2 separate regions of the Homo sapiens genome follow, and region 1 is linked to region 2. Evidence: fine-mapped expression QTL. A gene starts in region 2. The other region holds a variant in brackets. All regions are shown on one strand. Distances are from middle to middle. Region 1 has its middle 7.5 kb from the start of ZNF283. Region 2 holds the start of ZNF155 (zinc finger protein 155).

Region 1 (4,395 bases), 160 kb before region 2:
GGTATGATAGGGACAAATAATCCTGCATCCTCTAAATTTTGATGATGATGCAATCTCTGCAATTCCTCCCACAGCACAGTATTGAGTTTCAAGGGTTTCCACTTGGCTCTTTATACCATAAGGACTTTATTTATTTTTTTTTTTTTTGAGATGGAGTCTCACTCTGTCACCAGGCTGGAGTGCAGTGGCGCCATCTCAGCTCACTGCAATCTCTGCCTCCCAGGTTCAAGCTATTCCCCTGCCTCAGCCTCCCAAGTAGCTGGGATTACAGGTGTGCACCACCACACGCAAGTAATTTTTTTATTTTAGTAGAGATGAGGTTTCACCTTTTTGGCCAGGATGGTCTCTATTTCCTGACCACATGATCCACCCGCCTTGGCCTCCCAAAGTGCTGGGATTACAGGCATGAACTACTGCGCCCAGCCCATAAGTACTCTTAGTTCACAAGTTAGGAAGCCACTATAATGAGTTCTACCAGAAGATGAGCATATCTATCCCAAATATATGTTAAAGGATAGAGGAAAACAACCATAGGGTGAGTTCATGGACTTACTGAACTCACTGTGAGATCAGACTTGGGCCAAACATGGATAAGTAACAAGCTTGAAATCCTATCACAAGGATCTTGAGGGTCTCTCCTGGAAACACTCCTCTTAGCTTACATTGCCTACAGGGAGGACCCTGAGAAGAAGTTTCTGTGCTATTATTTTATCAGCCGGTACAGTTCCAGGGAAGCAGGAGAGAGGGAAAAGTATAGTGTGGTAGGGAAGGAGACAACACTTGTATGAAGGTCTTACTGAGCTGGCCACTGCTTGCTATCAAGTGTAATTGATTGTTTAATTTTGTGTTTTAAGACCACCTAGCTGAGGAGAAGAAGGGAGGTGAATTCATCCACTGGTTCATGAAATGTTTGTCCCAGAGACTATTAACTCCGCTGTACTTCCAGGTCGCGTGTGAATAGTTCAATGGGTTCTGTAACGTCTCATGCATCAGCATCAACAGGAAAGCCCTGGGGCTTGAGACAAGTAGTGCCCATTGCAGGCATGAGGTCAGGTTTCGTTGCTGCTTGTGCCCATGTAGAGTTGTTCTGAGTTCATGCAGGGATGTTGCTGCAGCAGTGAATCAAGAGAAACAAGTTTCCAGAGGCCCCAGGCACAGGTGAGGCTGAGAGGATCTGAAGTGACACATAAGATGTGTCTGAACTCTTTCTTAATTCAACTCTTGCATGCAATTATCTGAGCCTGGTGATGATTAGAGTTTAAATTCTAAACTACTGATGCTGTATCATTAATGACTAATTGTCTATTATTAAAAGTTTCTGTCTCTTCTTGTCAATTCTTTAAGTTATAGCTTTCTAGGAAATTGACCATTTCATCTGTTTTCAAATTTATTCTAATTCAAAAAATATTTTCTATTCTTGTGTAGTCTTTTTCTTTCTTAATATTATTTGTGCCTGTTCTCTTTTTTATTCATCTTTTGAAATAATCTATTTTTTAATTATCTCAGAAATGGATCACTTCAAATAAGCAGTTGTTGGCATTTAGCCTCTATTGCATCAGTGTTTTCTATTTCTTTAACTTGTGCTTATTGTTGACCTCAACCAACTTTCTTTGTATTTATTCTATTATTCTGTGTTCTAACTTCAAGTTGGACATAGCCTTCATTCTTTTCATTTTTCCCTTCTTCTTCTTCTTCTTTTTTTTTTTTTTTTTTTGAGATGGAGTTTGCTCTTGTTGCCCAGGTTGGAGCGTAGTGGCATGATCTCAGCTCACTGCAATCTCCACCCCCAGGGTTCAAGCGAGTCTCCTGCCTCAGCCTCCCGAGGGGTCTAGGAGATTAGTGATTATTAGTTCTAGCGGGTT[A/G]CAGTGACCGGTAGCACAGGAGGGATTGGCTTCCTTTTTCTGAAGGTGAACCGGGTCTTTTCTGTCCTTTTTCTAAGTAGCTTAAATAACACATGGTCAATAGGCACAATTTTCACAGGCCTCTAACTCATGACCCACTAATCCCCTAGACCCCCGTTGGAAAAAAGGAGAACGTGTAACCCTGGAGATCGATGGGTCAGGGCTAAACCCCCAAGTTGCCTTTTTAGTTTGAGGGGAGGTACACAGGCACTCTCCCAAACCAGTGTTTCAAACTTTTTATGATGAGCCGAATCTGCCAACACCAGAGCTTCCAAAAAGGACAAAAGAACTTGTTTCTCCAGCTAGCGGAAAGTGTAGCTCATTTCCTCAATGTTACTTTCTGTTATGTATGTGAGGGAACCACTATGGGAGACTGATGGCCTTGGGAAGCTAGAGAGTTGGTGCCCACTGATCCAGTTCCTGACCCAATTCCAGTTCAGAAGGCCCAAATTAGCAACTTCTGGGTCCTAAAAACTTCAATTATTGGACAATACTGTGTAGCTAGAGAAGGAAAAGACTTCACCATTCCTGTAGGAAAGCTCGATTGTCTAGGGCACACTCCAGCTGTCACTCTACACACAAACCCACACACTTGTGTCACAGTCACAGATTCATTCCAGTCCTGTCATACACCAAGCACTTTCTTCTTTTTGACACATACACACAGTCTGTCATACAAAGAGAAACACACCTGCTGTGTCATGAGCACACATGCAGTCACGAAGACATACCCTGGCCATTTCATGTGCACAGATGCACACACACCCCATTCCCTGTGTCACAAGACATCCCAGCCGTGGCACGTGCACTCTCATACAGACGCAACGTCACCATTCGCACGGTAGGGCACATCCTTGGCTCTATCACGCACATAATATTGCACACACCCCCTACACCATGTCTGTCACCACCACGGACGGTCCATCACACGCGGCCAGGGAGACGCCTGACCTCGTTTTGCCCCACCCCCTCCCTCAAGTCTTCATACCCAGCCACACTGTCGCCTTCTTCGGCTGCTCGCATTCGCCTCATTGCTTCTCCCACCCTTACCCGCACTGCCGACTGGGGCATGAGTCCGCAACGCCCTCTGCGCCTCGCCCTGCTTCGATGTCTCCTTCCGAAACTACACGCGGAACCCAAGAATCACTGGGATGCGCAAAGCGGATCAGGAGCGCACGCTCATTCGGCCCAGTGACCTGTGGGAATTGTAGTCCCGGGCCGGAAACGCAGGAGACGCCAGAAACCCAAGTTTGGGACGGCGCGTCCCAAGGGTTTCTGGAAGTTGTAACCTGTGCTCCGAGTGCGTAGGCGCAGGAACCCTTCGGGGGAATCCCTTTAGCAGGGAGCGTATATTGAAGAGTGCGTGCGGAGGTGAGAGCAATAAACTGATAACGGAAACAGATGGCATACTTCGTTTTCAGTTATCAAATTTCAAAAACTAAAAATGTAGATGGTACACAATATTGTTGAGAATGTGGGGAAATGAGAGCTTTCACACGTAGTGGGTGGAAATGACTACAGCTCTTTTACAGTTTTGTGTAGTAGCATTCACGAAGTGTGAAAGCAAACCCCTAAGCAACCAGCATTTTTACATACAAGAATCTAGCCTACAAAAATGCTGGCATGAAAGACAAAGATGTGGGTACAGTAATGCTTACCAAAGCCGTGTTTGTAATACTGAAGAATTCACATTGTAATACTGAAGAACCTCAATGTTCGTTTTTTGAGACACTGTTAGTCTGTGCTAGCCAATATGATAGCTATTTGTGGCTATTTAAAATTAAATCTATTAAAATTAAATAAAATTCGAAATTCAGTTTCTTACACTAGCCATGTTTCAAAGGCTCATTAGCCAAGACAGCTAGTGGCTACTGTATTGGACAAGAGGGATATAAACATTTCTAACATCACAGAAAGCTACATTGAACAGTGCTGGGTTAGGTAATAATTCAACGTTAAAAGGAATGAATTAAATCTATAACTGACATGAAATGAAGTAGAAGAATGTGTTGAAGTGGAAAGGGCAAATGGCAGAATTATATGGATAGCATGATCCCATTTCTGTATAAAATAGCTGTGTCTTTATACATACATTCAGTGTACAGAAAAATCTGGAAGAATACCTGAAAATATTAACTTTGGTCATTTCTGTAGATAGGGAATGAGTAGGGGGACACTTTCATTTCTGACATTATTTATCATCAGTTATTTGAATATTTAAAAACTGCAACAATTAACTGAATGTTGCTAAATCCAAATAAATATTTTTATTACTTATTTTGAAAGATTTTTGGCTGCCTTCTACTATCTCAGCGACGTACTCTTTCTTGAAATACTGAACTACTTTAGCTTAATAGACCTCCCTCATTTCTGTTTTATCTCCTCACTGAAAAGCATTAGAACATCTCTACAGCTATACCACTCTGAATGCTCCCGATCTGGTCCGAAAAGCATTAGAACATGGAATTACTTGAGTGATTAAAAGTAAAACAAT
Region 2 (4,395 bases):
TCTCTGAGAATAATATGTGGTAGAGCATTGACTCATGGGAACATGTTGATGACTGACATACCCAATAATATAAAATCAAGAATGAGATTTCTTTGTAGATAAACTAGGAAAGTGAAAATCATAGAATAACAAATTAACCTAAATGTATTTCAAATCAATAACATAAACAGTCTAAAGGTGACAGCAAGAAGTAATTTAAGCAACTTATTAAACAGTACAGTGTTTGACTATATATCCTCAGTCTAAAGACAAAAAGAACTATAAAAAATGTTGAACTCTACTTTTGCATTGTTTTTTACAATGATATGAATTAGTAACTCTGACACTGCATGATGCGTATGCAATGGTCTTAATGTTTGTGGCCCACCAAAATCCATATATTGTAATTTTTACCCTCAATGTGATGGTAATAGGAGGTGGGGCCTTTGGAGGGTGATTAGGTCACGGGATGAATACCCTTATAAAAAATGCCAGAAGGAGCTTGTTTGTCACTTCAACCAAATGAAGACACAGCAATATGGTGCTAACTATGAACAAGAAAGTGGCCAACTACCTGACACAAAATCTGCCAGTGCTTTGATCTTGGATCCCAGTTTCCAGATCTGTGAAGAATAGATTTCTGTTGCTTAAAAGCCGGCCGGGCGTGGTCGCTCACGCCTGTAATCCCAGCACTTTGGGAGGCCGAGGTGGGCGGATCACAAGGTCAGATCGAGACCATCCTGGCTAACACGGTGAAACCTCTTCTCTACCAAAAATACAAAAAAATTAGCCGGGCATGGTGGCGAGCACCTGTAGTCCCAGCTACTCGGGAGGCTGAGACAGAAGAATGGCATGAACCTGGGAGGCAGAGCTTGCAGTGAGCCGAGATCGCGCCACTGCACTCTAGCCTGGGCGACAGAGCAAGACTCCGTCTCAAAAATAAAATAAAATAAAATAAAATAAAATAAAATAAAATAAAATAAAATAAAATAAAAGCCAGGCAGGCTATGATATTTTGTGACTAAAAAATATTGGTACTGAGAGGTGGGCTTGCTGCTGCAACAAATACCTAAAAATGTAGCAGTCTTTGGAACTATGTAATGGATAGAGTCTAGAAGAGTTTTTACATGTATGCTAGGAAAAGCCTACATTGCCATGAATGGACTGATAAGGACAATTCTGGTTAGCGCTCAGAAATAGAGAATAAGAACTGTAGAGAAAACATCAATCTTGTTAGAGCATACCTAGGTAGTCATGATCAGAATGTTGGTAGAAATATGGACAGTAAAGGCCATTCTGAAGACCTCAGTCAGAAATGTTGAACATGTTATTGGAAGAGAAGAGAGCTTCTTGTTATAAAGGGACAAAGAATTTGGCTGAATTATATTCAGGTGCTAGTGTTTTATGGAAGGTAGAATTTGTGAATGATATAATTGTTTATCTGAATTAATTTCTAATCAAAGTGTTGAAGTTGCTTGAATCATCTTGACTACCCGTAGTGAAAGGCACGAAGTGAGGAATGACTGAAATAATTATTAATTAAAAGGGAAACAGAACTAAAATTTTTAAAAGTTTACAGCCTATCTACTTTGGAAAAAAAAAAAAACAGGAAACCTGAAGAATACAAGGGTATGGTTAAGCAACTAACTAATTCATGAATTTAGTATGGATTGGCCATGTCAACTGAAGCCAGGACCTATTGTCCAAGACAATGGAAGAATGACCCCAAAGGCATTTCACAGATTATGGCAGCTTCTCCTCCCATCACAGGCCCAGAGTGCAAGGACCTGGGGGACAGAAAGGGCCTTTGATGCCAGATATACCCTAATATATTAGGCACAGTTTCCTGCCTACTACGATTGAGCGTGTCAATAAATTTTTATCTCTTGGGAGGGCAGAACAGAGCAAGGATACAGCTGTAACTGGTTTAGAAATAGCAGTCACTCAATTTTCAGAGAAGTGTTCCTCATACTGTGGTTGGCACAGTCACTTTATCTAAAGAAAACCATGAAAAGTATTCTTTTTTAGTTTAGAAAAATTGATATAGAACATGAGACTCCATTTTTTTAAAATAAAAATATAGGTTGATAGGCCAGAATTCACAGGTCCACCTGCCTGAGCCAAAATTCTCACGCCTCCACAGAGCAAATGGACTCCATTTCCCAAGATACCAGCGAAACGCCTGCGGGAGTCTAATTGCCCGGTCGATGCGCAGGAAATTTGGCTCCCGCAGGCGTTTCGCGAGTAGCTTGGGAGGCGTGGGAATTTTGGCCCAGGCAGGAGGACCTGTGAATTCTGGGAAGTGGAGTCCATTTGCTCTGTGGAGTCGTGGGAACTTTGGCTCAGGCAGGCGGATTCGGGGGATTCTGGGAAGTGTAGTCCAGACGCCTGTGGCATCATCGACACTTCCGGTCTCCGAGCAGGACACTGCTACTTAACAAGGTGGTTTGAGCCAAGTATGTGTCTTGCGGGTCTTTGCGAAAGTGAACCAGTTATTAGGGGCGCCTAACGACCTGGGGGGTCAACTAAGGGGGTAAGAAGCCCTGGAGAAGACCTGAGGTTTGGAGATGCGAGGGGTGGGAGGGAAGTTTCGTTGCCGTCGATGGAGCCTTCTGGCGTTGGGGGCTGTACTCAGGTCCACCGGAGGAGTCGTCGGGGGTTCGGGGGGGGCGGGGAAGAACTCTGTCTAGTCTTGTGTGCCTGTTTAGAGGGTTTTCCAGGTGTTTGACCTCGTTCAGTCCGCCTCCCTCCACTCTTAAGTGTGCGACCTCTTTCTCGCGATATAACGTGGGGTGTTACTTAATCTCCCTGTACCTCCCATTGCCGTTTTTTAAATGAGGATTTCAGGACCATCCTGATAGAATTGTTTTAGGAGTTGAAAGTTGTGGTATAAAACAAAGACTTAACAGCTCCTGTCACTTGGTGTCCTGTTAATTTCCCGCGAAGTGGTCAGGTGCCCGGGTGGGGTCAGAGCTCCAGCTGCTCCGGCCCTTCTCTTGGAGCCCGGCAGGGCTCTGGATGATCCCGGACGCCTCTGACCTCTTTTTAGGAAGGCGTGGGTTGCATCCACGTTTCACGAAGGGAGAGGAGCATTTAACTTGTATCCGGGACGGCGACGCAGAGTGTTTGACAGCTTTCTCCTTCCCCAGCCTGACTTTTCTAAAAGAGCTGCAGGGAGGGACTTGGCTACTGAGGACAAAGCTGTCTACACGAGTGGTCTTTGGCTTTTCTCTTTTTAAAAAAAAGTTATTTATTTTGTTAGTCTGTTTTTATTATTGTTATTATTTGAGAATGAGGTTTGCTCTGTCTCCCAGGCTGGAGTGCAGCAGTGGCGCGATCTTGGCTCACTGCAACCTCCGCCTCCTGGGTTCAAGCGATTCTCTGTCCTCAGCTCCGGAGTAGCTGGGATTACAGGCATGCGTCACCATGCCCGGCTAATTTTTGTATTTTTAGTAGAGACGGGGTTTCACCATGTTGGCCAGGCTGGTCTCGAACCTGTGGTCCTAAGTGATCCGCCTGCCTCGGCCTCCCAAAGTGCTGGAATTACAGGTGTGAGCCACCGCGCCGGGCCGGTTTTTTCTTTTACAGAGATGTTCACCTCAACCAAGAGTGTATAGGATGTGTCCTTGGGCATGGGTGTTGATAATAATTAAACCTTAATTGGTAACTTAATTCTAAGGGCTTTATGGAAATAAATACATTTACGCCACACCATGGCTCTGTGGAAAGGTATTGCTCTTTTTCTTTTTTTTTTTTTTTTTTTTTTCCTGAGACGGAGTCTCGCTCTGTCGCCCAGGCTAGAGTGCAGTGGCGCGATCTGGGCTCAGTGCAATAGGCCGCCTCCCAGGTTCAGGCGATTCTCCTGCTTCAGCCTCCTAAGTAGCTGGGATTACAGGTGCGCACCACCACGCCCAGCTAATTTTTGTATTTTTAGTAAAGATGGGGTTTCACCGTTTTGGTCAGGCTGGTCTGAAACTCCTGACCTCGTGATCCGACCGCCTTGGCCTCCGAAAATGCTGGGATTACAGGCGTGAGCCACCGCGCCCGGTCGCTCTTTTCCATTTTAAATATGGGAGTGAGACACCTGGTGCTTAGTTCCCAGTAGAATGAGGTACAGCTGGAGCTGGAACCTAGGCAGTTTGGGTCAGAGCCTGAGTTGATCATCCCTTGGATACATTTTCATTGAGGTAGAGGAACTAGCTGGAATCAGGTGGGGAAAGAGAGTTAGGACTTGATTGAAGGGACCTTGAGAGCAAGGCTCATAGACTTGGACTTCTGTAGGAGTCTTTTAAAAATTTGTCAACATCCTGTTTCACTTTTTATAAGGATTTTGTATTGTGGAACCATATCATTGTGGAGCATTTTAAAATTAGATTAATAGGAGGAGAAAACATGTTTTAAATTACCCATGAATCC

Evidence for each region. PIP is the estimated chance that this variant, and not a neighbour inherited with it, causes the effect.
Region 1: its variant is the best candidate, but not a certain one, in a credible set for the expression of ZNF155 in whole blood (INTERVAL, PIP 0.66).

The regions. Positions count from the first base shown.
Region 1 is chr19:43,817,589-43,821,983 of GRCh38, forward strand. It overlaps a transcript of LYPD5 not described here. Among named protein-coding and RNA genes, the nearest start is that of ZNF283, 7.5 kb to the right of the region's middle. The variant A/G (reference allele first, on the strand shown) is at 1,863.
Region 2 is chr19:43,981,811-43,986,205 of GRCh38, forward strand. ZNF155 (zinc finger protein 155) reads left to right here and starts at 2,378. Exons shown (of 5, transcript NM_198089.3): 1 at 2,378-2,435. RefSeq lists a silencer at 2,075-2,274.